Regions from separate parts of the Homo sapiens genome. Here regions 1, 2, 3 and 5 are each linked to region 4. Evidence: fine-mapped expression QTL. A gene starts in region 4. Each other region holds a variant in brackets. All regions are shown on one strand. Distances are from middle to middle.

Region 1 (5,137 bases), 73 kb after region 4:
TGTATAAATACCCCAGATCCCTCCCTCTCTGGGTGGGGTCCATTCTTTCCTGGCTCCTAGAGTTCCCAGTAGGATTAAACTGTGGTTGTGCAAGCGATAACTCACTTGATCACTCTTATTAGCTGTTTTCCCCTCCCTGTCATCATTTCTCTGATGTTTCCTGGGGTTACCTCTCAAACGACTTCCCCCTGGATTCCTTGTTGAAGGTCAGGGGATCCGGGTTACATCTTCACTACATAGCAGAGTATTGACACACAGGACATGTCCAGCAGATGTTTGTTGGAAAATGGTATGGATACCTCTAGAATAGACAGATACTTCCAGAATATATATATATCTTTTAGATAAGAATATATATATCTTAAAGCAGATTGCATATTCTTCTCTCCATAGGTCTTATGCCACATTTTGCTGCCCTTGTGGACTCTGAGCTTGGTGCTGCCTGTTGTCTGCCTGCCCCTGACCTGAAGGACATGCCCAGCTCCTTCTCTCATCCTTGCCTCTCTTTTGCATCTTCGTAATACATATTCACTTTTTAAAAAAGGAATGGCTCTTTGAAGCTAATGGCTATCTAAATCTTTCTTTTCTATTGTCCAGCACAGTGTGAATAAATACATACAGGCTATGATTCCACTTTTCAAATGTGTGACTCCATGTTCGTGTTTTAACATTGTCAACTCCATCATTTTGCCCCCAACTCCTGGTCAAGGAATTTCCCTCCCTCTAAAATCACAGTCTCTTCTTAGAAAGGGGATATTTTTCTTTAAGAAGGGGTTTCAGGATAAGAGCTAAGCTCGTTCTAGAACAGTGGTTTCCAACCCAGGCCAAACGTTAGAAAAGTCCTGGGAAACGAATATGTCAATGCTCAGCCCAGACCAATTTGACAGCAGTGTCTGAGGTTAGGGCTTGGTTTAGGGTTTCTGAAAGCTTCCCTAGTGATTATGTGGAGCTAAGGCCGATGCCATCCATCTAGAGCTAGAATATCCACTTCTTCCTTTGGGCATTCCCTGCTTTAGATCAGTGGGAGATAAACCCTACTCTACTGAGTTGTATTGGACCTAGAGGCCAGGACCAATGTTGCTGATTCAAGGTGAACTACAGATTCCTAGGATTCTTATCATCTACATCTGTGTCAACCCAGGCTGTCTGCAGAACTGGGCTGGGTTTTCTAGAGTCCCAGCTCAGCTCCTTCCCATGTGCAGCATGCCCTTCCCTGCGGGGCTGCTGGGCAGAGCGCTGTTCCTCTTGAATCCTCCTGCATGTGATCAGTGATGTCTATGTGATGAGCTCCTGTCAGACGGAAGCCTCCCACCCTGAAAGTTTTTGTTGGCAGCTGAGGATGGGGGTGGACAGCATCAGTTGACAGCCTGGCCCTCCACCTGGGCCCTTTCCTGCCTTCTCCATTCCCATTCCCTCGGGGCCACTTCTTCTCCAATCTGTTTCTTCTCAGATTTTCCGCCTTGTCCCTGTTCCTCTCCTGCTATTTTCTACTGTCTCACTCTTTGCTTTTTCTGCTCAGCTGTGCCTTGGAACCAAGCTGTGACCGCCTTCTCTCACAGCTGCCTTTGCTAAGGGTGGGCCCCTTGCCTGGGTGCCAGGGTGGAGGGAGGAATGGGTCAGAGAGAGGGGCTTCCAGGAGACAGAGCTCATACCCCTGGGAGCCCCAAGTCTGGGTTTCATACCTGGATGCTTCTGCAACTTGCCCCTTTCTGCTGCATCTTTCCCAGTCAAGAGAGCCAGGTGCCTTGCAGGGGAGCTTTTGGGAATGGGAGAATATATAGCATTTGTGTCTGTCTTGGAGCTCGGTGGGTGCTGTCCCTGGGGCCATGAGGTATGTGGGCCTGTGTGGGGCTCTTTCAGGGCTGACCCTCTGCTGTCTCTGCAGGACTGCAATGTGCCGATCTTAGCTGCTGCCTGAGAGGATGTCTGGGGTGTCCGAGCCCCTGAGTCGAGTAAAGTTGGGCACGTTACGCCGGCCTGAAGGCCCTGCAGAGCCCATGGTGGTGGTACCAGTAGATGTGGAAAAGGAGGACGTGCGTATCCTCAAGGTCTGCTTCTATAGCAACAGCTTCAATCCTGGGAAAAACTTCAAACTGGTCAAATGCACTGTCCAGACGGAGATCCGGGTAAGTGTGAAGTGTCTGCCCTGTCCATCTGTCTGTCCCTCTGTCTTCTTCCTGGGCAGCTGAGCAGCTCTCCTGCAGCCTCGCAGCTCTCCCATATCCACCCCTGGGTGGAAGAGGTGAGGTGGCATCAGAGAGATGTGCTCAGCCTGCATCACCAGGCCTGCTCTCCAGATGTTCCCATACTACTTCTCTAGGAGCCTGGGAAACACATGTTGTAGCCTTTGCTTGAACCCCAGATAATTTGTTTGGCCTCTGATTCAATTCATTTCAACTTATTAAGTATTTATGATACTTGAAGCTCTGCAAGGGACTTAAAAGCTGCTGTCCTCAAAGAGTTTACACTCTGATGAAATAGGAATTAGAGATACACAAGTGATTGCATTAAAAATAGAACAAAACTGGTATAAGCCTTGTGTGCTGAGCATGTACAGGAAGGCACTGGTGGGGCACTTAGAGGATGACAATGAAGTAGAGGTGCTTTGAGCCAGGTGGAGGGTTAACAGGTGCCCTGCCTGGCAACACGTCCTTTTGCTCACTCCTACCCAGAATCACAACATCTGTTTTGCAGGTCCAGGTACCCACCTTCATCAGGGCACCTGGACACCAGGATGCCAGTTCACCTTAACCAAATGTATATGAGATTGTCATCATAAGCAGAGCTCCAACATGCTGAACTAATTTCAGTCATCTACATTTATTGAACAATTACTGTGTGGAGCCTGGGCCAATCCCTCTACACACATTATTCCATTAAATCTTCCCAGCATCCCCATGAGTAGATACACTGAGGACATACCTTTCCTCTGCCCAGAGCACCCCTTTCTGATGATGGGAGGGAAATCCAGATTGGTTCTCAGGTTGCTTAGTGGGTAATTTGAACAAAGGAAGCAGGAACTTTTGGGAAAGCTAATCAGGTCTGAGGACATGGGATGAGCCATCTCCAGCTCATAGCCAACCTTTCCCATGTCCTGAAAGCCAGTGTCCCTAAACTCCATGAATGTTTCCTTTCGTTAGTACTGCTGTGCCCTGGCCACATCATCCTGGCTGCCTTCCGTCTGCTATAGCACACGCTGTGCTTCCACACACCAGAGCAGAGTGTAATTGATTATGT[C/T]ACTGTCATGGCCAGTTATCACCATTGATTACAGTTTGATTGGCTCTCTCTGTTTCCTGTAACTGATTTGATTAGGGCCTTGTTTGCTCATCTTTCTGATATAAAGGCACAATTGTGTCCTGAGAGTAAGCCCTGGTCATCTTCCTCCAGGAGGATGTTTTCCTCTCTCTTTATCCACTTCATGAGTCTTCCTTTGGGTATATCATTTTTGCAAAGAGCTGATGCCATCCACTGTGAATTTTACTAGTTTAATTTTCAGAAGTTAACCTGATTTCCAAGTTTAGGGAGGAGCACCTCATTGTTCTTTTGTGCTGAAAAACAGAGAGCAGCAGGTTAGTTCATATTAGGACATGTTCCATAGAGTCAGCAGTGAAAAGGGTCCTGAAAAAGAGGTAGGATTTAAAGCAGTGACACTGGGGACAGGAAGAGGCTTTCCAAGAGTGGGGAACAGCATGTCAAAAGGCAGGGAGGCCTCTGAACAGTAAGTAGTTCAGTTTGACTGGAGTATGGATTATATTTAGAAAAGTATCTAAAATCAAGATCAAAAAGGAAAGTTGACAGCAGAGAATGAAGGGCCTAGAATATCAGGCAGAGAAATTTGGAAATGGACAGGCACTAGGGAACAACACATATTTTTAAGCAGGGGCAAGATATTCCTGGAGTTGTATGATATACCCTGCTGGGTGTTTAAGGGATGAAAGTAACACAACAGGCCTATGGAGAAGGCAATGAGACCCAGGCTTAAGAAGAATGGCTTTGAGGCATTATCTGGGGTCGGTGGGGAACAGAGGTGGAGAACAGAAGTGACTGACTTCCAGGAATATGTCCAAGCCTTCTGATTTTTCCTGCTTCCAATGTCTCCTGCAGGCAAAATGCCACCTGCTTATTGCAAATAGCTGAGGGTTTAAAGCCACTTAGACTTCTAGCCAAGTCCTGCTCCATCCTTACTGGTTGTGTGGCCTGGGACCTAATGATTAACTGATCTGGGCTTCAGTCTCTTCACCCGGGGATCATGCTGTAAGGATTGGAGATGGTGGAGGAGAAGCACAAAGCACACAGCAGTGCCCATAACTGGAGGCTATTGACTGTGTGGGTATTAGGTTATTACCCAGCTCAGGAATCTCCAAGGGCCTCTAATTGCCCAGAGAATAAAGTGCAAATTGTCTTCTTTTGGTGTCTATCCAGGTATCTGTCTTATTTTCAAATAAAGAAGTAATATGATCAGATTTGTGTTCTAAAACAACAACATGGTGTTCTGCAAGATGTTAAGAAGTGTGCCCTCGGGAAGGGAATGTGTGGTCAAAAAGATTGGGAAATGTTTGGTTAAACAATTCTGAACAGATTCTTTTGCAATAAGACTTCTCAGAACCTTAAATAGGCTGATATGCCTGGTAAATCACTAAGAAGGGCCACAGAGGTGATATTTTCTTAAATAAACAATTTCTTATTTGCCTAAAAAACCCTCCTTTTAAACCACTAGATCTCTGGCCAATCATTTAGGGAACTTTTTCCCCTAAACTCTGACAGCAGAGAAAAAAGGATTGAATTAAAAAAAAAAAAAAAAACCTGGCCAATGGGAGATGGGTTAGGAGGCTGTGGTCATACTGCAAAAGGAAAATGATGAGGACCTGGACTAAGAGAATGGTGTTGGGAATAGAGATAAATCAACGTAATTGAGTACATCTAAGGAGACAGAGTCAATAGAATTTGATGATTAACTAGATATAGGGAGGGAAAGAAAGGAAGGAGAAAAGGATGACTCAAGCTTTTGCTTGGGCGACTAAATGGGTGTTGGTACTATTCATTGAGATCCAGACAGAGAAAGGGAGGGCATTCTGAGATTTCAGCTTTACATGTGTTGTGTTTAAAGTGTTTATGAAACACCCCCACGGAGGAGCGT
Region 2 (5,000 bases), 110 kb after region 4:
AGCCCATTCCTCCCAGCTTCCTGACTTCTGTGTTCCACTGAAATAAGCCAGAGGCCCTGTTTGTCAAGGAAATTGCTGGAACATTTTGCCAGCTTTGGGTTTGTCTCCCACCGCCCCCAGGGAAGGGTCAGGGGTTGCCAGCACCCTGGTCCCCTGGCTCCATACTGGGACCAACCAGGGGTCTTGATGGCACCTCCCCATTCCTGCAGCTGGGCCACTACCTGGAGCGGAACAAGAACTCCCTGAAGGTGCTCACCCTCGTGCTGTACTCACTGCAGATATGCAAAGCCATGGCCTACCTGGAGAGCATCAACTGCGTGCACAGGTAGGGGTGGAGGGAGTGGCCAGCGGTATGGAAGCCAGGCCTTCACCAGATCCTCAAGGCCTCTGGGTAGAAGCAGGGCTTGTGGGTGACACAGAGCAGTGTTGGAATCCCAGCAATTGGCCCAGCAGCTTTGAGCACTTGAGCAACCTCTCTGACCCTGTGTCCTCATCTGTAAAGTTGCAGGCACTGTATGTACCTCATGGGGTTGTTACGAGTAACTCTGAAGTCCGAGGTGTCTGTCTATATATCAAGACCTTCTAGCCCCTCCCCTGTGAGTGCCAGGAAATCGCCCCCAACCTTGCTCAGAGCTTGCTCACCTCCAGCTCCCTGGCTTGGTGGCACATGGCCCAGGAAGAAGGGACTGGGCTGGAGCAGGGCCAAGAAGATCCTGGGGTCCTAGGCCAGACATCACCCTGGTTGCCGACACCCCTGGGCTGCCAAATCCAAGTCTCCCTGTGGCTGTGGAGTTGGCCCCTGCTTTACCTGGCTTTGTTCCCATTCCCTGCCATGAGAACCTGACCCCCAAGGGAGTCAGTGGTTGGGCATTACCCACCATTGACATTGGCTCTGTGGCCTTGTGCCTGACTCAGGGTGTGTGAAGCTCTCATGCGATCCTGGTATCCTAAGTGCCCCATCAGAGTTAGCTGTGCTGCCGCTGCCACTCCTGCTATACCAAAGACCTAACCAGTCCTGTGGAAATGCAGATGAGAGAGAATACCTGTGTTCAGGGAAGTGGTTGGAGTTTATCCTTGAAGAATCACCAGGTGACAGCCTCCCTGGCATGGGGGACAGTGTAGGCAACAGCACAGAAGTGGAGTGTAGCAGATGCCAGGAATCTGAGCCAGGCTTCAAGCTGGAGATGGATGAAGGGGTGATGGGAGACAGAGCCCAACAGCAAGAGGGAAGGAGATGGCAAAGCACCTGTGCATGTTGGGGTGCAGAGGGGCCAGCTGGGCTCCCACCTGAGGTGTGCTGTGGCAAGACCACTCGATGGGGGCAGTGACCCACAGAAGCTGCCCGATTCTGCTCTGGAGTCCGAGTCCCTGGCTTAGATTCTTGGTCTCTTTTTCCATCTGTCTGTCCATCTCTCTGTTCCTGCTCCCATGGGGGTGGGCAGTGCCTCATCCTGGTCTTGATGCCCTTCTTCCAGGGACATTGCTGTCCGGAACATCCTGGTGGCCTCCCCTGAGTGTGTGAAGCTGGGGGACTTTGGTCTTTCCCGGTACATTGAGGACGAGGACTATTACAAAGGTGAGGGGGCTTCCCAGCCTCTGCATTGGCCTTGGAGGGGTCGCTGAAGCCAAAAATTCCAGAAGAAGGAAGTCTACAGTTGGACAGCCCAGGCTAAGGGTCTTCAGAAAGTAGGATGTATTTCTGGATAATTCTGATCTTTCTTCCCTAAAAATCAACCTCTTTGCCCACCCAAAGCCTCTGTGACTCGTCTCCCCATCAAATGGATGTCCCCAGAGTCCATTAACTTCCGACGCTTCACGACAGCCAGTGACGTCTGGATGTTCGGTGAGTGCTGATTTGGGAGGGCATGAAAAGGTGTTCAGATTCTCACTTCTGAACCAGGCTAAGGGGGTGGGTGCAGGGAGCAGGGGTCTGACCTCCACCCTCCGTTCCCAGGGTTCTATTTTGCTGTGGCCACTGAGAAGTCTCAGAGGTGGGGAGGCCAGTAGGGGTAGGAAGGGGAGTGACCCAGGCTAAGGACTGGCCTGGGCTGTGCAGGCTCATCTTCCTGGAAGAGGCTCTTGTGACATGTGTGCTCCACCTACCAGCCCCAGAAACTAAGACGAAACTCTGTGACTTATTCTGAGAGAGGTACAGGAAGGAGAGAGAGCAAAGGCAGGTGTAGAGAGACAGCCCCTTACGGAACACCTCCTGCAAACCATCTCACTTAGTGCTCCCACAGCCAACCCTGTAGAACATTATTATTACTCTCATTTTCCTGTTACGAAAACTGAGGCTCAGATGAGTCAGGAGCCTGCCCGCAATCACACAGGCACCAAGTGTTGGTGCGAGGCTTCCATTTCCAGCTTTACTAAGGAGTGGCTCCCCTCCCTCCTAAGAGAAGACACTTGTGGTCCCAATAGCATGCCATGACTGCCACCTCTTGATCCTGCAGCACCCTGACAGGGGTCTAGCGAGCAAGGCCTTAGGTCACTTACTGCAGAGGTAGGTCACTTGTCCCTCGGGCAGACCACCATGGTAGGCAGGACCCCAGGGTGCTGGAGGAGGAGGAGGGACCGCAGGAGCTGCTCCTGGTGGAGACTGAGTGCTAATGGCGATGGTGCT[T/C]CTGGGTGGGAGGGACTGGTCTCCCCCACCCAGGGCCTGACGCTCCCTTACACCCCAGCCGTGTGCATGTGGGAGATCCTGAGCTTTGGGAAGCAGCCCTTCTTCTGGCTGGAGAACAAGGATGTCATCGGGGTGCTGGAGAAAGGAGACCGGCTGCCCAAGCCTGATCTCTGTCCACCGGTCCTTTATACCCTCATGACCCGCTGCTGGGACTACGACCCCAGTGACCGGCCCCGCTTCACCGAGCTGGTGTGCAGCCTCAGGTGAGCATGGAGTGTGGGCTGTGGGCTGGGGGCCCACCCGGCTGCACCAGGGAGCAAGACCAGCACACAGAGAGGTTTGCACCACATCTCCCTAAAGAAGACGGGCCAGGGTCAAGGACAGGAGGCTGAAGCCAGGTTCACTGTCAGATATGAGCTCAGAGATAAGGCAGCCGTGGGGAAGCCTGACTCATCTGGGCATCTGTCAACACAGAGCACAGAGCCTTGTTCAAAGGATGTGCTCAGAAAATATTTTCTAGGTTAGACTCAAAAGCCTGAGCCAGACTCTCATCGAAGTGCCTGTGCTCTTTGTGATGTTGAGGCATCCTACCTGCTTTCCTCTCGCCTTGTCTCTCGACTTTGATCTTTCCTCCCAGATAGCAAGGAAGGGAGTGATCTTTGACCTGTTTTCAAGACTATGACCCAGGGGCCACCTCTCCCTTCTGAATGGGGGATAAGGGACCTGAGGGCCCGTCGGTGCCCAGGAGCCATGATTCCCTAGGTCTGGGGAGGTCACTGGGGAAGAAGGTCATCTGTTTCAGAGGTTCAGGGTCCCCCAGTTTTCTTGGTGGCAAGCCTGCCATTAGCCCTCCTGTGGGAGATCTGACTTCTTTTGGTTTCCTCTGGGGTGGGAGTCAGTAAGCATTTTCTATAAAGGGCCAAATAGTAAATATTTGGGGCTTTGCTGTTTATGCAAGTCTCTGCCAAAACTGCTAACTCTCTTAGCTCAAAAACAGCCACAGACAATACATCGATGAATGGGTGTAGCTGGGCTCCAGTGAAACACCATTTTGGATGCTGAAATATGAATTTCAAATAAGTTTCATGTGTCATGAAATATTTTTTGTCTTTTAATTTTTTTCAGTCATTGAAACAATGTGAAAACCATTCTTCATTTGGGTCCATACAAAAATAGATGAAAGGCCAGATTTTCCCTCTGGGCGCTTATTTGCTGAACCCTACTTTAGGGAGTCTGGAACTTAATTGACTTGAAAAATATTTTTAATACTGTACTTTAATACTGATTTTAAATACTGTAGTCAACATGTTGCCTTGTTTGATTTTAGGGCAAGTAAACAGTCCCTGAAAACTGCCTGGTGGGGAGGCACCCCAGGGGATGCCAGCAATGCCCAGGCCAGGGGCACTGAGGGTGACCCTGCATGTTTTCTGTGGGGCAGGGCCTTCAACATCATCTGTAAAACCTCTGGCTTAAAAGGCATCTCTGTTCCTCTCTATCCCTTCAGTGAGCCTCCCAGTTAATTCTAGACTCCTGTGTTGGTCCCTTGTATGGGAGGTTTGAGAAGTCAAAAGGCTGCAGGATAAAAGTATTTGAAGGATGTAATTTGGGAGGTTAAAAGCCCTGGGGGGATGGAGCTGGGAGTCCTGATTCACTCTGAGGCCTTGAGAGCCACAGGGAGCTGTGCAGGTGTCTCTCCTGGGCTGAGAGGTGTTCCCATCATCTCCTGGGCTGAGAGGTGTTCCCATCAGAGGCATCGACCAGGCCTCTGCCACAAGTGGAGGTGGGAGCAGGTTTCTGGTGTGATCTGGAAAACACTGAAAGACTCAGAAGACCCCAGGTTGCTTCCTCAGACCACCACCTGACTCTTCCTCCTTAGAGTTCAGAAGGGATTTGATCAGTGTTTCCTAACCGTTCCAGGGAGGAAAGGCCCTTCTAATGTCAAATTTTGAGTGTCTCTGTGTAACAATAGTTATATTTTAAAAATCTTTTGCTGAACAAAATGTAGTGGGCTATATAATGCATTTTTATTATACATAATAAAATATATACACACTTGAAAATATAGTATCAAGTGTCACATATTCAGTAGTATATAATACTTGCTACCCATATGAACATGTGGATTCATGGGCAGTAATAATTCCAGAGTCCTCTGGGGTCTGTGATTCCAGGTTAGGAGCACTGGATTGGGTAAGAAAGGTGAGAGGCGCGCACATGGCTAGCCTGGGAGTGAACCCACATGCCTCATTAGCACATACCGGGGATGCGTTGGGGGATGTTTCATGAGAAATAGGAGATGTAGATTCTAGGCCAGGGCCATGAAGTTGGCTGGGACTTTGGAAATCTACATAGGGGTTTGGTGCCAATCACAAGCCCA
Region 3 (5,000 bases), 83 kb after region 4:
AATGATTCTCTCACATTTCTGGAGGCCAGAAGTCCTAAATCAAGGTGTCAGCAGGGACTCAGTTCTCCTGAAGGCTCTAGGGGAGGATCTCTCCTTGCCTGTCCCAGCTTCTGGTAGCTCTAGGCATTCGCAGCTTATGGATACTTCACTCCAACTTCTGCTTCCATCTTCACGTGGACTTCTCCTCTCTCTGTGTCTCTTTTCTGTATCTTTTACAAGGATGCTTATCATTGGATTTGGGGCCACTCAGTCCAGAGTGATCTCATCTTGAGATCCTTAACTTAATTACATTTGCAAAGCCCCCCATTTTTTTTTCCAAATGAGGTCACATTCACAGATTCTGGGGTTAGGACATGGACATATCTTTTGGGGGCCACCATTCAACCCATTATGACCTTCAATTCAGATCATAGTATCTGTCACTGGTACCTCCATTCAGGCACACACAGACCAGTGTACCCAGATGTACAGCAGTGAGTGGGCCTTTTGTCCATTTAAAAGCTTTAATTATGTCATTTTGGGGTATGTGCAGAAGAAAATAGAGACTCACCGAATGTGTGAGTCAGCTCTTCTCCCCAGGAGCCGTTCCACACCTCCTGGAAGTTGGCAGCGGGAAATGTGTAGGGGCCCTTTATAGTTGGCACATTGTCATGGTTCTCACGATGATTGGGGCTGGGGCTTGGCATTTGGTGGGTGGGCTGTTGCCATGGGTGAACAGTCCCATACAACAAAGAATCCTCCTGCCCCAAGTGCCAGTGGTACCCTGTTGAGATTCACTGATGTGAATTAGGAAGCATTATGGTACCATGAATGCTCTGAACCCAGTCCCCATGTGAAAAATAAAACTTTACCTGTCATGTTGAAGCGACACCTGCCCCTCCTGCTCTGAGGCAGGCACTGCATGTCACCGGAAAGAATGGTATAGTAACTGCTTTAAAAGATATTTTAGTAGGGGGACTTTGGGGGGAAAAATCTGTGAAGGCCACCTGGTACTCTCCCAACTGATCTTTATTGTTCTTCATCCCTCCTCAATCTCAGCGTGGCATCAAGAACGCTTCATACGGTTTATGGGTAAATCAGAATTTTTGACAGAATGGTCTCATTTTTAACAGAACATTTTTATTTTTCAGAGACACTTATATTCTGCTCAATATAGTGAGCGGAAAGAAAGGGCCTTCTAAAGAAAAGGCCTTTTGTTAACCTTTTCAGCCTTTTTTCTGCCTTCTCAGAACTCTACTTCCCGTCTTCACACACAGCAGAAGGTGCAAGGGAAGAGCCTGCTATCCAGGCCCTGGGAACATAAAACCCTTCATGATTCTCTTGCTCCAAACAGGAGGAAGTCATTTTTCTTTGCCCTGGGAACATAAAACCCTTCATGATTCTCTTGCTTGAAGCAGAAGGAAGTCATTTTTCTTTGCATTGTTCATCCCAGTCACTGGCATGGCCGGATCAGCCGTGGTCATGACCTGATCATCCTATGAGGCTCCTTGACTGCACTTCACCCACCTGCTGCTGGTGCTGGCTCCAGCTCACAAAGGGCCTCAGATCCCTTTCTTCAGGGATTGCTTCCTTCAACCACCTGTACCCCTCTATAGGGCTCAGCCTTTGGAAGAATTTAGAGCCACTACTGGACAGGTGCTCCCGGGAGGTGGGTCTCCCCAGGTGCCAGTTCCCACCCAGTCAGGGGAGTCAGAGGAACCTCTGGCCCAAGGACCCCGAACTCCATTTCCAGCTCACATCTTCATGTCTTAATTCTAGACTTCTTGGGTTAATCAACTCCTCAGGTTGACTTGACCCTTGAGCCATGTTCATCCTTCCCCCCTTACCCATCACAATGCTAGCTACCATTTTTTGAGCACCTGCTCTGCACCTACCATTGTGCTAAGCTCTTACGTGTCTGTAACCCACATAAAGCCAGTCAGTTGTTCTGACCTTGAAGCCAGTCTCAGTACAGCATCACATTCCAACAT[A/G]TATTAGTCTGCCATCTAAAAATAACTGGAAATCCATTTAAATCTTTACTGTAATCTCTTTGAGGGAGAGAACTGTTGGGGCTCAGAAAACAATATCCCCAAATGAAGGCCTCAGCAGCAGCCTCAGAAGCAAAAGTTTTTCTCTGACTTTCTCCTGCCCCCTGTCTCTCAGCCCCACTCTCCCCCGAGGTGCCATAGAAACTAGGATTGTCTTCCCCAAGGTGGGTCATAGAAACCAGAACCTCTTTTCCCCCACAGAAATCCGGCCATAAAACCTAAAAGTATTCCATGTAAAAACAGGCCATAAAGAAATTATCTGACCTACATTGTTGGACTATAGGTCATAAGGCCTTGATTCCAGAGAGGGCCTGCCCTGCACCCAGCAGGAAGGAACACTGCTCAGAGAGGCCCAGAAGAATCTAGACAGACAGGCCTGTCTGGGTTTCCCCACTCAGCCTGTCAACATTAGATCAGACCCTTCTCCTCCAATCATATTTCTACATGACTGTCCATTGTTTGCTAAACCTAAGCATAAAAATGGACAATTTCTCCTCTATTTTTGGGTCTTCATTCTGAAGGTACCTGTGTATGCATATTAAGTAAATTTGTATGCCTTTTCTCCTTTAATCAATCTGCCTCATTTCAGTGATTTTTTTCAGTGAACCTTTAGGAAGCCAAAAGCCTTGGCCCCCACAGGGGATATCACTGGGGGATCGCTGTCCAGATAGGTAGTAAAATTTATTAAAATTCTCATAACCGTATACCAATTAAAAGTAAAACAACTGTCTGTGTCTGTCTAACCCAAGGTCAGACATGGAGCATTGTTTTAGCTCTAACTGGTCAATGTCTGTATTAGTCTCCTAGGTCTGCTTTAACAAAGCACCACAAACAGAGTGATGTGAAACAACAGAAAGGTATTGTATCACAGTTCTGGAGGCTAGAAATTAAAGATCAAGGTGTCAGCAGGGCCCTGCTCCCTCTGAAGTCCATAGGGGAACCCGTCCTTTCCTCTCCCTGGCTGGTGATTCGCCAATGGTCTTTGACACTCCTTGGCCTGCAGCTGCATCACTCAAATCTTGCACCATCTCCCCGTGTGCATGTCTCTCTCTGCATTCACACTTCCCCCTTTTTTAAGGACACCAGTCATTTTAGATGACAGCCCACCCGAATGACCTCATTTTAACTCGATTAGTCTGTAAACACTCTATAAAGTCCTGCGCTAAGGCACTAGAGGTTAAGATTTCAACATATCCTTTTGGGGAACCACAATTCAACCCATATGGTATCTTACTAGATAGATGTATAAAGTTTTTTGGAATCCAGGGGAAGAAACAAAAACCTTATCACAGGGAGTCAGGGAAGGCTTCCCAGGGGCCCTCATAGTGCTCTCTGGGCCTTAAAGCATAACAGGGAGCTCACCAGGAGGAAAGGACAAGGGGGAGAGGGGAGCCAGGGGTCCCCCAGGCAGGAAGAATTAAATGTGTTCAGCACAGAGGAAAGCAAGAGCATGCTGTGTTGGGGGCGAAGAAAGAGAGCAACTTTGGAGACCAGGCACAGAGCACATTGTGGGTACAGAGGGGATGGGACTGGAAAGAACATGTGGGAAAAAAACCCAAAGGGAGATTTACGCCTTGTGTTCATTAGTTTGGGTCTTATCTGATTGTACAGAAAATGAGGAACCAATGAGAGATTTTCCACCAAAATCACCTGCATTGATTTTGTCCTCAACCTCAGAGTGACACCTTCTTAAATAAAATGTAAGCAAGACTTATTTTTATTTTTGAGACAGTTTTACTCTTGTGGCCCAGGCTGAAGTGCAATGGTGCGATATCAGCTCACTGCAACCTCTGCCTCCGGGTTCAAGTGATTGGCCTTCCTCAGCCTCCCAAGTAGCTGGGTTTTATAGGCATGCACCACCATGCCAGGCTAATTTTTGTATTTTTAGTAGAGGCAGGGTTTCACCATGTTGGCCAGGCTAGTCTCGAACTCCTGACCTCAGGTGATCCTCCTGCCTCGGCCTCCCAAAGGGCTGGGATTACAAGTGTGAGCCACCATGCCTGGCCTAAGACTTTTTTTCAACAAAAGCTTAAGTGTAGTTTATTTATTAAAATGTTAAGTATAGTCATCTTACTAAAACAAACAAACAAAAAAGAATACTTTGAAAAGAGTAAGGAGGGTGAATTGAATTAAGCCTGGGAAGCAGTTTGCAAGCCACTGTCCCAGGTGGGGTTCCTGGGAAGCAGACCTGGGTGGGAGGCTTGCATTGGAGGAAGCGTGTTGATGGGAGCTCCCAAGGCACACAGCTAGTGGGAGGGAAGAAAGCAGGATGGGGCAGAGGAAAAAGTTGGGCTGCGATGCAGCCACAGCAAAGGCCTCAGCCCATTCCACTGGAGCCTTAGAGCCAGAAGAGCTGTCCCAAATCAGGATGAAAGGACATAGGTATTATGTGTGTTCACCAGTCACTCAATATGGATGGCCCCTAGGAAAGGTGTGACCTTAGGCAAGGGCCACTCTTTGAGTGAGAGCAATCCTGGTGGAGGACAGTGGGGGACTCAGCTGTCATGTTGTTTTCAAAAACCCAGCCACTAACATCAAACATGTTTAATAAGCTTATTAAGAAAAAAGCCAAAAAGATTAGGTATTTTATTAGAAATAGGTGAGCCTGAGAAAATAGTGAGACAATAGAGATCACTGAAGAAAGTTATAAATGGATGAGCACTGACAAAAGAGAAGGAAAGTGAGCTGAGTAATTAATTCATTCAACCACCTTTTCCTTTTTGGAAGTAGATTATCCAGAGCACAGAGACAAGCCATCCGGTCCTGTTGCTTCTTTGTTTCTGACCTATAGGAAGAAAGGCCAGAGAATAGGGAGAGAGGCAAAGGTAGTTTGAAGTCTTTACGCTATTTGATAAAGCAACTAAATCAGTGTTAGCCAAGCAGGAGGAAAAGCTATAGACATTTTAATGTTTGCAAGAAAGCATTCAAAGGTTCTTAATAACCAGGCTGTGAGCCATGGGCAGTCGGAGAGCC
Region 4 (5,171 bases):
TTGCTATCATTTCTAAAAATTATAGCTATAGAATTTTTCATAGCATTTGTACACCTATCACTTAATTTGGGCTTCACAATACCCTGGGAAACAGGTAGAACAGATAATACTTATTTTTCTACTTTTCTAGATTAGGAAATAAAAGCTCAGAAAGATGGATTCGCATGTCCAAAGTCACAACCTCTTCCCTCTTGACTGGATCCTTCCTGTGAGCATTGAAACCTGCTCTACTGGCTATCATCCTAAATGACAAATCAGTCCTCTTTCAACCCACGACCCCCTCCAATATCCCCTGGTCTCAATTGCCCTTGGCAGTCAAGCTTTCCAGGACTCATCAGCGCGTGCCGCCTCTGTGTCTTCACTTTCAGTTTACTTATCAGCCCACCCCACTTGACCTTTGGCTCTTCATTCATTTGCTCCTGGTAAGAGCTTCACTTGAAGTCCTCTGCTGTCTCTGACTCTTGCCTTAGACAAGTTTATCCATTCTTGTGGTTTCAAATGCCATCCCAAAAGTTAATCACCAGCTCAACCACCTTTGTGATCTCCAGTTAGTGAAAAGATAAGAAAAGAGAACCTGAACCAGGATGGGTCAATAGGACAGGAAAGAAAACGAGGAATAGGAAAAAAGTTTGTGGGACTCCCAGGACTTAGAGATTGGAGATTGCATGGCTGCAGGGTAAGGAGGGAGAGGGAGAGTCAAAGGTGACTTCTCTTTTGTTGACATTCACAGGGAGGGCTGGAACGGGGCTTGTTTGAAGAGCAATATGAGCCAGGGTTATAGACCTGAGTTTGGGGTAAGAGTGGAACATCCAAATGGAAGAGTCCAGCAGCTGAAAGGACATTTGTTCAAAGGCCTTTTTCATTACAGTTTTCTCCTTCTTCTGATCCAGGTATGCATCCCCCCAACACCCCCACAATTAGGGCCTCCCACATGGCACTTGGTCAGCTTGAGATACAGAAGTAGAAGGGAAATATTTTTCTTCTCTAACTGGGGTAGATCATTATTGCAACTTATGCCATATGGAGAGCATCGCCATGGATAGTGTCTTTTAGGGATTTCCATGGAATTTGAGGGCTCCTGAGGCATTTCTGATGGGTTTTTTTAAAAGGCAGTAACAGGCAGAAATGCATGACCTTGTCACCTGAGTTGCTTGTACATGACACTGGACAGAACCTAGGGAGACCTGATGGCGGAGTTGGCCACCCCAGAGAGTTTCTCAATGTCTTTTTCATTTAAAAAGCTATGGGTTTATGATTCTGTGAGGTAGATTTGGGAGATTCTTTTTTTAAAGTGCTGAAGAATTCAACAACCTCTGAAAACTCACCTTTCCCAGAATTGGTCCCAGCAAGATAAGATTGTAGTTCATTTATGTGGCCACACAGGGGCAGCACACACAAACTCTCCTTTTCTTAAACAGGTCTTGATTGTCTTTGCTTTTAGTTCCCACTGCCACCTCCTAGTACAGACTCTCAACAACTCACCCAGGTATCTAACTTTTGTGCCACTCAGCCTTCATCACTTCATTTCCAAGCGCAAGAATACGGAGGGGACACCCACTGTCAGATGCCCTCTGACCATGTCCTTGCCATGTAGTCAATTACCTGCCTCCTCATCCCCACACCTTCCCTGCTAACTTCAGTGTACCTCTGTCTGACTTGCCTCTCCATCCCTGGCCAAGTTCTCCCACCTGACCACCTTCTGACCTGCTGACCGCTGTGTAGTCACCAAGATTACCTCCAAAATGCTGAGTGCTGGGAACGTGACAAATCTGTGAATAGCACAAATGGGAAGGGGTGGGGGGGCTCCAGCTGTCAAGGCTGGCAGTGCCCATCAATGGGTTGTGAGCCCCATGCTGGGCAGGTGGGCCCTAGCTGCAGAGAGTCTGATCTTCATCGGACCCAGAGTGACATCCAGCCAATAGCTATGGGTAGTCCACTAATTATACTTTGAGAAACATTGACTTCCTAGCTTTGTTAACTTATCTAAGTCTCCAGTTTCTTTTCAGAAATGGGAAGGAGTCAGTGCAATCTTGGAAACTGAGTGCTTCCTCAGCACAACTCCAGGGGGCGCCATTCTCAGAAAGTACATTGTGAATAGCATCCTCTAGAATTGTGCAACAGGGCAGCTCTGGGAATCAGATTCCAATCCTGCACAGGACACAGAATAAAGAAGCTTGGGACAGGGGCTCTGGAGAGGACATTGTAGGATGAGGATGATGCTGCGTACACTCCACTTTTTTCACTTTATGCCAAGTCCAGGTCACTTCCTCCTCCTACTCAGGAGCAAGTCTGGAGTTTTCCTAGGGATAGGGAAGAAGTGTTGCTAAGTGCCCTTGAGTGCCTGCTCACATATCACCGGCCTGAGGAAAGAGGGGACCAGCCTCTGGGCGGGGCCCCTGGAAGGGGCTGTCCAGCATCTCTAACTATTCTTGTGCTGTCCTCAGACCCTACTTAGTCACAGCTCAGGGACCTGGTCTTCTGTGTTCAGGGACCTGGACCGGTTCTGCCAAAATCCCTAGTGGTATTTATGATTTTTCATGCCTGCAAAGGGACTGGGGCCACTTTAGGACATGGAGAGATTAGGACACAAGTGCTCAGTACCATGTAGATATAACATCTCCCACTGCGGGGGGTCTTGGGAGAACCAGCCTGAGAAGTTGGTTTCCTCCGCCCGCCCTGCGCCCCCACCCACCTCACACACACCTTTTGGCCTCCAAAAGGCTGCAGGTGGAGTGGACAGAGGATGGAGGGGTGTTAGGAATTGGGGAGTTAACTGCTCACAAGGGGCACATAACATCCGAGGATCCCATTTGCGGCCGGGGGAATGGCAGAGATCGCCCCCCAGGTCTGCCCGGCGCTCAGGGAATTGGTGGCAGCGTCTATTTCAGAGTTTATGGTAAGAGGCTGGAGCCGGCACACACAGACAACACACCCCACCCTTTAAGGAAGTGGGGAGGAGAGCAGCAGGGGTGTGGTTAACAACTCAGAGGAGGAGGGAGAATCTAACCTGTCAGCCCTTTTACTCAGCCACAGCCTCCGGAGCCGTTGCACACCTACCTGCCCGGCCGACTTACCTGTACTTGCCGCCGTCCCGGCTCACCTGGCGGTGCCCGAGGAGTAGTCGCTGGAGTCCGCGCCTCCCTGGGTGAGTCCCTCCCGCGAGCCAGGGCTGAGCGCTGCGCCCGGCAGAAGTTGGAGGCTTGACCGGGTGGCAGGGGTTGGGGACAATTCCGGGATCCTGGGCACCTGAGCTGGGAGTTCCCGGAGAAACGGCCAGACCCAGGAAATCGGAGCCGTGGGTGCTGTGCACATGCCCGGAGCTCGCCAGCCTTCCGCGGGGAAGAGGGGTTCTATTTTTGGAGTAAATTTGACACTATAGGGTGTTTCTCCCTCTTTGTCCTCTCAACATATTCAGACAGGGGAGGCTGGGGGAGGCTAGGGGTGACGGTGTGAGGGCACAGCCAGGCTGCTGCCTCTAAAGCTCAGGTTAGGGAGCCACGGGGTTTCAGCTCCTGCCCCCGCTCCCCGCTCCCTCCCGGGCCCTTCCGCAGCCCCAGGGGTTATAGTCTCACCCCCAGCCCACCCTGACTCTCCTGCAGCCACTCCTTGCACCTGAGAGGTCATCTTCTGAATCAAGCCCTGGCTGGAGGAAAGCAAGGGTGTTCTGGGGCACAGGGGAGCTCGTGTGTATGTGTGTGTGTGTGTGTGTGTGTGTGTGTGTGTGTAGTTAACACTGGCCATTCTGGTATCTTGAGAAGCCGCCTCCTGAGTGCCACTCAAGGGTTAAGTTCAGAGCTGCCTCTGCCTGCTGTCAGGCTGCGCGTGGGCACCGCTTTGGGTGGGTGAGCGTGGAGCGGCATATGGGTGATGTTCTGCAAGCCCTGCCACCTGCCCTAAGCCTCGACCACATGACACTGGCATCTCCCTATACCCCAAACTGGGAGCAAAATCCAAGTCCGCTCATTTAAGGAGCCAGCAGAAGGACAAGAGCAGAAAGTTGTGCCTAGAGGTGGCTTTAGCCAGGAGGAACTCGGAAGCTGCGCTGTGGCTGGGTCTGAGCCCACTGGGGCAGTGCACGTGGTGTGATGTGGTGGTGGGTGCTGGGAGGCCCCTCTACGTGGGATGCTCTCTGTTCACCCCAAGTGCTGTTGCTGAAGGCCCTGTCTTTCCCAACCACTCTGGGGGAGGGGGAGGAGGACACTGATGAAAAAGTGACTAAAGACAGAAGGGAGGAAGGAAGTAGTCACACTGGAGAGCCCCAGCATTGGTGGGACAGTCTGCAGTCATCCATTCAGGAGGCACTCACTGGCTTCCCACCTGCGGCCAGGTGCAAGGTGTGGGGACAAGGTGAGTGTGGCATGGCCTCTGCTCACCAGGGCAGTGTGGGATACCGGGTGGTTGAGGGAGGGCTGCCAGGGGAAGGTGCAGGGTACTATCCAACCCTGCACTAGAGGGCTGTGGGGGGAGCCAGTCAGCAATGGCCAGGAGGGCGTCCTGGCAGAAGTGACTCCAAATTGAGAGCTGAAGGATGACTAGAAATTAGCACAAGAGAAGAGGGGAAAGAACAGCAAGTGCAGAGACTGGAGGCTAAAAGCAGCAGGAGGCTGGAAGCAGCGGGCGGCATCCAGGAAAATGAAAGTAGCTGGGCTTGTTGGGAACCTAGAGCGTGCAGGGGCGAGGGGAAGCTGCAGGGGTGAGTGGAGACTGCTCTAGAAGGCTTTGGAAGGCCTGCCAGGCTGCCATGGCAACTTCTGTTGGAGCAACACTTGGGACCTGGAGCCAGGCAGGAGACTTCCCAGCAGGAAGAGATTGCCAGATTTAGCCAATAAAAGCACGGGACACTCAGATTTGAATTTCAGATAAGCACTCAATGGTTTTTTTTTTCACTACAAATATGTCTCATGAACTACATGGAACATACTTATACTCAAACATTATTCACTGTTTCTCTGAAATTCACATTTAACTGGGTGTCCTGTATTTATCTGGCAACCCTACTCTAGGAGAAGCTGAGGTTGGCGCAATGCTGTGAAGTAAAGGCTGGAAACTGCCCAGGCACTCTGAGAACAGTCTCAGGTCTATCTTGTAACCATTCCTCCTGGATTTTATTATGAGCTCATTTAAAAAACAAAAAATCAATTCCTTGGTCAGTTTATTCATCTATACAGGTG
Region 5 (5,171 bases), 45 kb after region 4:
TGTGGGCATGGTGGCAGCTGGAGGGTGTTCTGGGCTGTTGAACAAAAAGTCCAGAAAGTCCATCTGGACTGGTCCTGCTGGGGATGGTGAGGGACTGAACAGCCCAGGTGCGGGGTGTCTGGGCTTGCCCACCTGTCCATGTTTAGCCAAGTGTCCATTTCAACAAGGAGGAAGGTGACAGGCCCCCAGGACGATGGCCTCTCTCCTCAGTCACCCCAGGTCAGTCCCCAGCAAATGCAGTGGGGCCTTGATGGGGAAAGTCCTTTCAGGGTTTGTATCAATTTCTTTGCATTGTTGTAGCAGAATATCAGAGGCTGGGTAATTCATAAAGAAAAGAGGCTTAATTGGCTCATGGTTCTGCAGGCTGTGCAAGCATGGCACCAACATCAGCTTGGCTTCTGGTGAGGCCTCAGGAAGCTTCCAATCATGGCAGAAGGGAAGAGGAGCTGGCATCTCAAATGGCAAGATAGAAGCAGGGGAGGTGCCAGCCTCCTTTTTAAACAATCAGATCTCACATGAACTCATTAAACTCATTACATGGGGAAGGCACCATGCCATTCATAAAGGATCCACCACATGACCCAAACACCTCCCACCAGGCCCCACCTCCCACACTGGGAATCACATTTCAACATAAAATTGGAGGGAACAAACATCTAAACCGTATCAGGGTCTCTGATTCCACAAGAGCCAGGGGACAAAGCAGGCCCCACGGAATAGGGTGCTGTGGAGTCAGGCCCAGGCTGGCCTGCTTTGGGGATGGGATGGGCCTCTGTGGGCCCAAACCCATGCTGCCCTTGTTAGCAGACGCCAGATGGCCTAGGACCGTCCTTTCTCTCTGCCATGGAGTGAGTGCGGGACGGACGGGTGGCTCCTGTTAGAGCTGATGCTTACATGGGTGAGGGAGGGGAACGGCTATGTCCCCAAATATCCTGCTCTCTTTGCTTTCCTTCCACTGACAAGGACTCCCTCCTTGACCGAACCTTAGGCAGGCTCCTCTGAGCCCTCTTTTTGGCTCCCCCACCCTGCTCCTTGGCCTGCTAAGCTCCAGAAAGTCCAGCAAGAACTACCCCCTCACCCCCTACCCCGCCACCATCACTACCTCACCAAATTCCCCTTGGTATTCATCCCTCCACTGACTCCCTCACCTTGCCCACTGGCTGTGAATCCCCAGCTGTTCCCCTTGTGGTAGGAATTGAGTTCAATCTCCCTCCCCTATTGGAATAGTCTTGGCCCTATTGCAATAAACTGGAAACAAGGCTTCCTGCCTGATTAACTTCACCTGGTGTGATTTTGCTCCTGCTTACATGTGCAATCACACACAAGCTCTTAACACAGACACTTAGCAAACCCTCTGGTTCCATCCCATTATCTCATTGTCTCTTCTGCTCCCAGCAACATTGCTTGAAAAGGGTATTCAGGTCCAGGGAGAAGGAAGCCACCTGTCCCACTTGGCCATGGAGCTTCTGTCCAGGAACACTGACCACTCTTGCTGGGGCCTGGAGTGACGGCAGGGCCACACTCTGCTCTGTCATGTGCCTGCCCTGGGCCCCGGAGACCCTGGAAAGAAGAACTAGGGCTGCCTTGGGCTAGGAAGGAGGAAGCAGGGGTGGGCAGGGCGGAAGTGGAAAGAGATCCAGGAGTGTCTCCCCTCTCAGGACCTCTCTCACTCCAGCCCTTGTGAAGGGCTGTTCTAACCTTGTTCCCTCAGCAGCAGTCTCTGTCATCAGAGGCATTTCTCAGCATCTCTATTTTGGAGCTGCAGCTGGTTGCTTCTCAGAATAAACAGAGCTGTGATATTATGTTGAAAGCAGAATGGAATAACATCTCTTCCTTATGCCCTCCCTCTTCCCCATGTTTTCCAACCTCCACTTCCCTCTTCTTAAAGGCCTTGCCCTAAGACCTCTTCCTCCACACCCCCTGCCCTACAGCTTACCTTCTACCCTCTTATAATCACAGGATCCCTTCACTGGCATGTAGGGGGACCTGAGATGACCAGGCCCTGTGCTGGGCCTGGGGGATCCAGGGGTTTCTATCTGCAAAGAACCCAATGCCAAGTGACACAGGAGTTCATGTATTAAGAACTTAAGGCTTAGTGTGGTGACTCACGCCTATAATTCCAGCACTTTGGGAGGCCGAGGAGGGTGGATCACCTGAGATCAGGAGTTCGAGACCAGCCTGGCCAACATGGTAAAACCCCATCTCTACTAAAAATACAAAAATTAGCCAGGCGTGGTGGTGGGTGCCTTTTGTCCCAGCTACTGGGGAGGCTGAGGCAGGAGAACTGCTTGAATCCAAGAGGCAGAGGCTGCAGTGAGCCGAGATCGTGCCACTGTACTTCAGCCTGGGTGACAGAGTGAGACTCCATCTCAAAAACAAAAGAACTTAAGTCAAGGCTGAGTGTGGTAGCTCATGCCCGTAATCCCAGCACTTTGAGAGGCCAAGGCAGGTGGATCACCTGAGGGCAGGAGTTTGAGACCAGCCTGGCCAACATGGCAAAACCCCCTCTCTACTAAAAATATAGAAAAACTAGCAAAGCATGGTGGCATGTGCCTGTAATCCCAGCTACTCGGAAGGCTGAGGCAGGAGAATAGCTTGAGCTCAGGAGGCGGAGGTTGCAGTGAGCTGAGATCACACCACTGCACTCCAGCCTGGGTGACAGAGTGAGACTCCATCTCAAAAAAGAAAGAAAGAACTTAAGTCAGAGATTATCAGAGCTGGTCCAGCATTCTGCTTCA[A/G]TGAGGCAACTGAGGTCTCCATTGAAGATGTGTTGGGCTCAGGGTCTCAGAGCTCTTGGGAGTTCAGGTAGGAGCCATAACACTCTGTGCAGTTTTCCTCGTACCTGGCTATATCATTATCAGAACAGCTGTGTTGTATTGAAATCAGTGAAAGGGAGCTCGATGCTGCAAGAGACAGAGAAATCAGACCATTGTTTGTCTTGGACAAAGCAGATGTGCACTACCCAGTGGATTTATGGACTGAGATGGCTTCTAGGAAGAACAGGGCAATCAGAGATGCTTTCCGGATACCAGAGGGTGGGAAGGTTTAATCATTAAGGAGCAAATGAAGAGACATGTATATGTGGCCACATTCAAGACCACGTTATTAGCTTACTCTTTTGTAAACCAGTAAGTCTGACAGTGTGTGAAGGCCCAGGCATATCACTCACCTCCTCTGTGGTCTATCCAGAGCCCTTCCGTTACGGCCTTCATCCTTTCCCTCTCTTGTCCCTTACCTGTGGTTGGTATGATTTCCCTTTTGTAAAATATGCCTAACTCCACTCACCACCCATCCTCTATCTGCTGATCTGCTGTGTAGCTTCATCCACATGAGACTCAAGAGCAATGCAGAATGCAAGGACAGGGAGTTCCTGGAAACTGGGTATGTTGCCTCACGACCTTCTACCCAGGCCCAAGTGTGGTCAGCCTCATCTTGCTCCGTGGTCTCACTTCTCAGCCTGTGCATCAGACCTTTTTCCCCCTGTTACCTGAAAGCAACTCTATGATGAAAAGAGGATGATCTGAGACTTCAGTGGGTTTCCTCTCTTGGTTTTCTCTTATTTTTAAAGAGAAAACTGTGGTGAGACTCTCAAGTTAGTCTTTTTAGTTTATTTTTATTTTTTTTTGAGGCAGAGTTGCCCAGGCTGGAGAGCAGTGGTGCAGTCTCGGCTTACTGCAGCCTCTGCCTCCTGGGTTCAAATGATCCTTCCACCTCAGCCTCCCAAGAAGATGGGGCTACAGGTGCTCGCCACCACACCTAGCTAATTTTTATATTTTTAGTAGAGACCAGGTTTTGCTATGTTGGCCAGTTGGTCTCAAACTCCTGGCCTCAAGTGATACACCCGCCTCAGCCTCCCAAACGCTGGGATTACAGGCATGAGCCAACACATCTGGCCCCAAGTTAGTCTTTATAAGCCCCAGTGGAATGTCCAGGAGTAAAGCTGTCAGCCTGGGGGTAGCTTGGGCTTGCTGAGCATTGAGGGAGCTACACAGAGGGCATTCTTGCCGGCTGAGAGAGTTGTGTTGTGAATGCCAAGGTCGGCGGCTGGAGGTGGGCCTGGTTCTTCCATGCACACTGGGAATGGGCATAGCGTGAAGAATGTGAGTTTTGAACTCAAGGGACTTGGAGGTATGTCTCAGCTCTACCATTTCTTAGCTCTGTTACCTTGGGCTGGTTATTTATTGTTCTTGAGATTCCATTTTCTCATCTGTAATATGGGAATATAAACAGAATCTATTTTTATTATTTATATATATATATATATTTTGAGACAGAGTCTCACTCTGTCATCCAGGCTGGAGTGCAGTGGCACAGTCTTGGCTCACTGCAACCTCCGCCCTCTGAGTTCAAGCAATTCTCCTGCCTCGGCATCCCAAGTAGCTGGTATTACAGGCATGCACCACCATGCCCTGCTAATTTTTGTATTTTTAGTAGAGATAGGATTTCACCATGTTGGCCAGGCTGGTCTCGAACTCCTGACCTCAGGTGGTCTGCCTACCTTGGCCCTTCAAAGTGCTGAGATTTCAGGCATTAGCCACCATGCCTGGCCAACAGAATCTATTTTAAAGAAGAGTTCACTTCCTGATTTCAGGAGTAATCTACTGAGCACCTCGTGTGTGCCAGGCACCGATCCAGGCAGAGGCGCATGGCCTGGGAAGTACCAATATGACGCTTGAGCTAGGGACACTCATATGTTCTGCAAGGGGAACAGGGTGTTATGTGGATTGCATAAGAAAGCATATATGCATTGCTTAACCCCATGCCTGATACATACAAAGCACTTGATAAACAGTAGTTGCTATTGTGACTATATTCAACACTAGAAATATGATATAAATGTGGTCAGTGAGCCAGAAGAGGAGTTTCATTTGATAAAATCTTCAGTTTCTTCCTCAAAGGCGTAACTGTCTTTTAATTAAAGGGAGTGTATTAGTCCAAGTTCCCCAGAGAAACAGAACAGACAAGATGTAGAGATGTCTATAAAGAGATTTATTATAAGGAATTGGCACACAGGAGTATGGAGACTGGCTAGTCCCAAGATCTGCAGTCGGCAGGCTCAAGACCCAGGAAGAGTTAATGTTTCAGTTTGATTCTGAAGGCAAGAAGAAGCTGGTGTCCCAGTTGGAGGGTCCTCAGGCAGGAGGAATTCCTTCTTACTCAGCAGGGGGGTC

Alleles and levels. Positions count from the first base shown, and alleles are read on the strand shown. Sizes are in standard deviations (SD) of each study's normalised expression. Not every link is listed here.
For the expression in esophagus muscle of the gene that starts at base 3,016 in region 4, allele A in region 3 goes with a lower level than allele G (moderate effect, 0.54 SD a copy in GTEx).

The links. PIP is the estimated chance that this variant, and not a neighbour inherited with it, causes the effect.
Region 1: its variant is the best candidate, but not a certain one, in a credible set for the expression of PTK2B in whole blood (TOPMed, PIP 0.57).
Region 2: its variant is the best candidate, but not a certain one, in a credible set for the expression of PTK2B in whole blood (INTERVAL, PIP 0.85).
Region 3: its variant is the best candidate, but not a certain one, in a credible set for the expression of PTK2B in esophagus muscle (GTEx, PIP 0.84).
Region 5: its variant is the best candidate, but not a certain one, in a credible set for the expression of PTK2B in atrial appendage (GTEx, PIP 0.72).

What each region holds. Positions count from the first base shown.
Region 1 is chr8:27,395,663-27,400,799 of GRCh38, forward strand. PTK2B (protein tyrosine kinase 2 beta) reads left to right here. Exons shown (of 31, transcript NM_173176.3): 2 at 1,886-2,126. The coding sequence starts at 1,923. Among named protein-coding and RNA genes, the nearest start is that of MIR6842, 35 kb to the right of the region's middle. The variant C/T (reference allele first, on the strand shown) is at 3,238.
Region 2 is chr8:27,437,556-27,442,555 of GRCh38, forward strand. PTK2B (protein tyrosine kinase 2 beta) reads left to right here. Exons shown (of 31, transcript NM_173176.3): 18 at 210-325; 19 at 1,476-1,576; 20 at 1,754-1,843; 21 at 2,682-2,886. Among named protein-coding and RNA genes, the nearest start is that of MIR6842, 6.7 kb to the left of the region's middle. The variant T/C (reference allele first, on the strand shown) is at 2,624.
Region 3 is chr8:27,405,989-27,410,988 of GRCh38, forward strand. All of the region lies in intron 2 of PTK2B (protein tyrosine kinase 2 beta), which reads left to right. Among named protein-coding and RNA genes, the nearest start is that of MIR6842, 25 kb to the right of the region's middle. The variant A/G (reference allele first, on the strand shown) is at 1,971.
Region 4 is chr8:27,322,537-27,327,707 of GRCh38, forward strand. It overlaps PTK2B (protein tyrosine kinase 2 beta), which reads left to right and starts at 3,016. Exons shown (of 31, transcript NM_173176.3): 1 at 3,016-3,145. RefSeq lists enhancers at 3,061-3,210, 3,261-3,310, 3,916-4,745, 4,091-4,160 and a silencer at 4,903-5,099.
Region 5 is chr8:27,367,299-27,372,469 of GRCh38, forward strand. All of the region lies in intron 1 of PTK2B (protein tyrosine kinase 2 beta), which reads left to right. Among named protein-coding and RNA genes, the nearest start is that of PTK2B, 44 kb to the left of the region's middle. RefSeq lists an enhancer at 3,351-3,420. The variant A/G (reference allele first, on the strand shown) is at 2,739.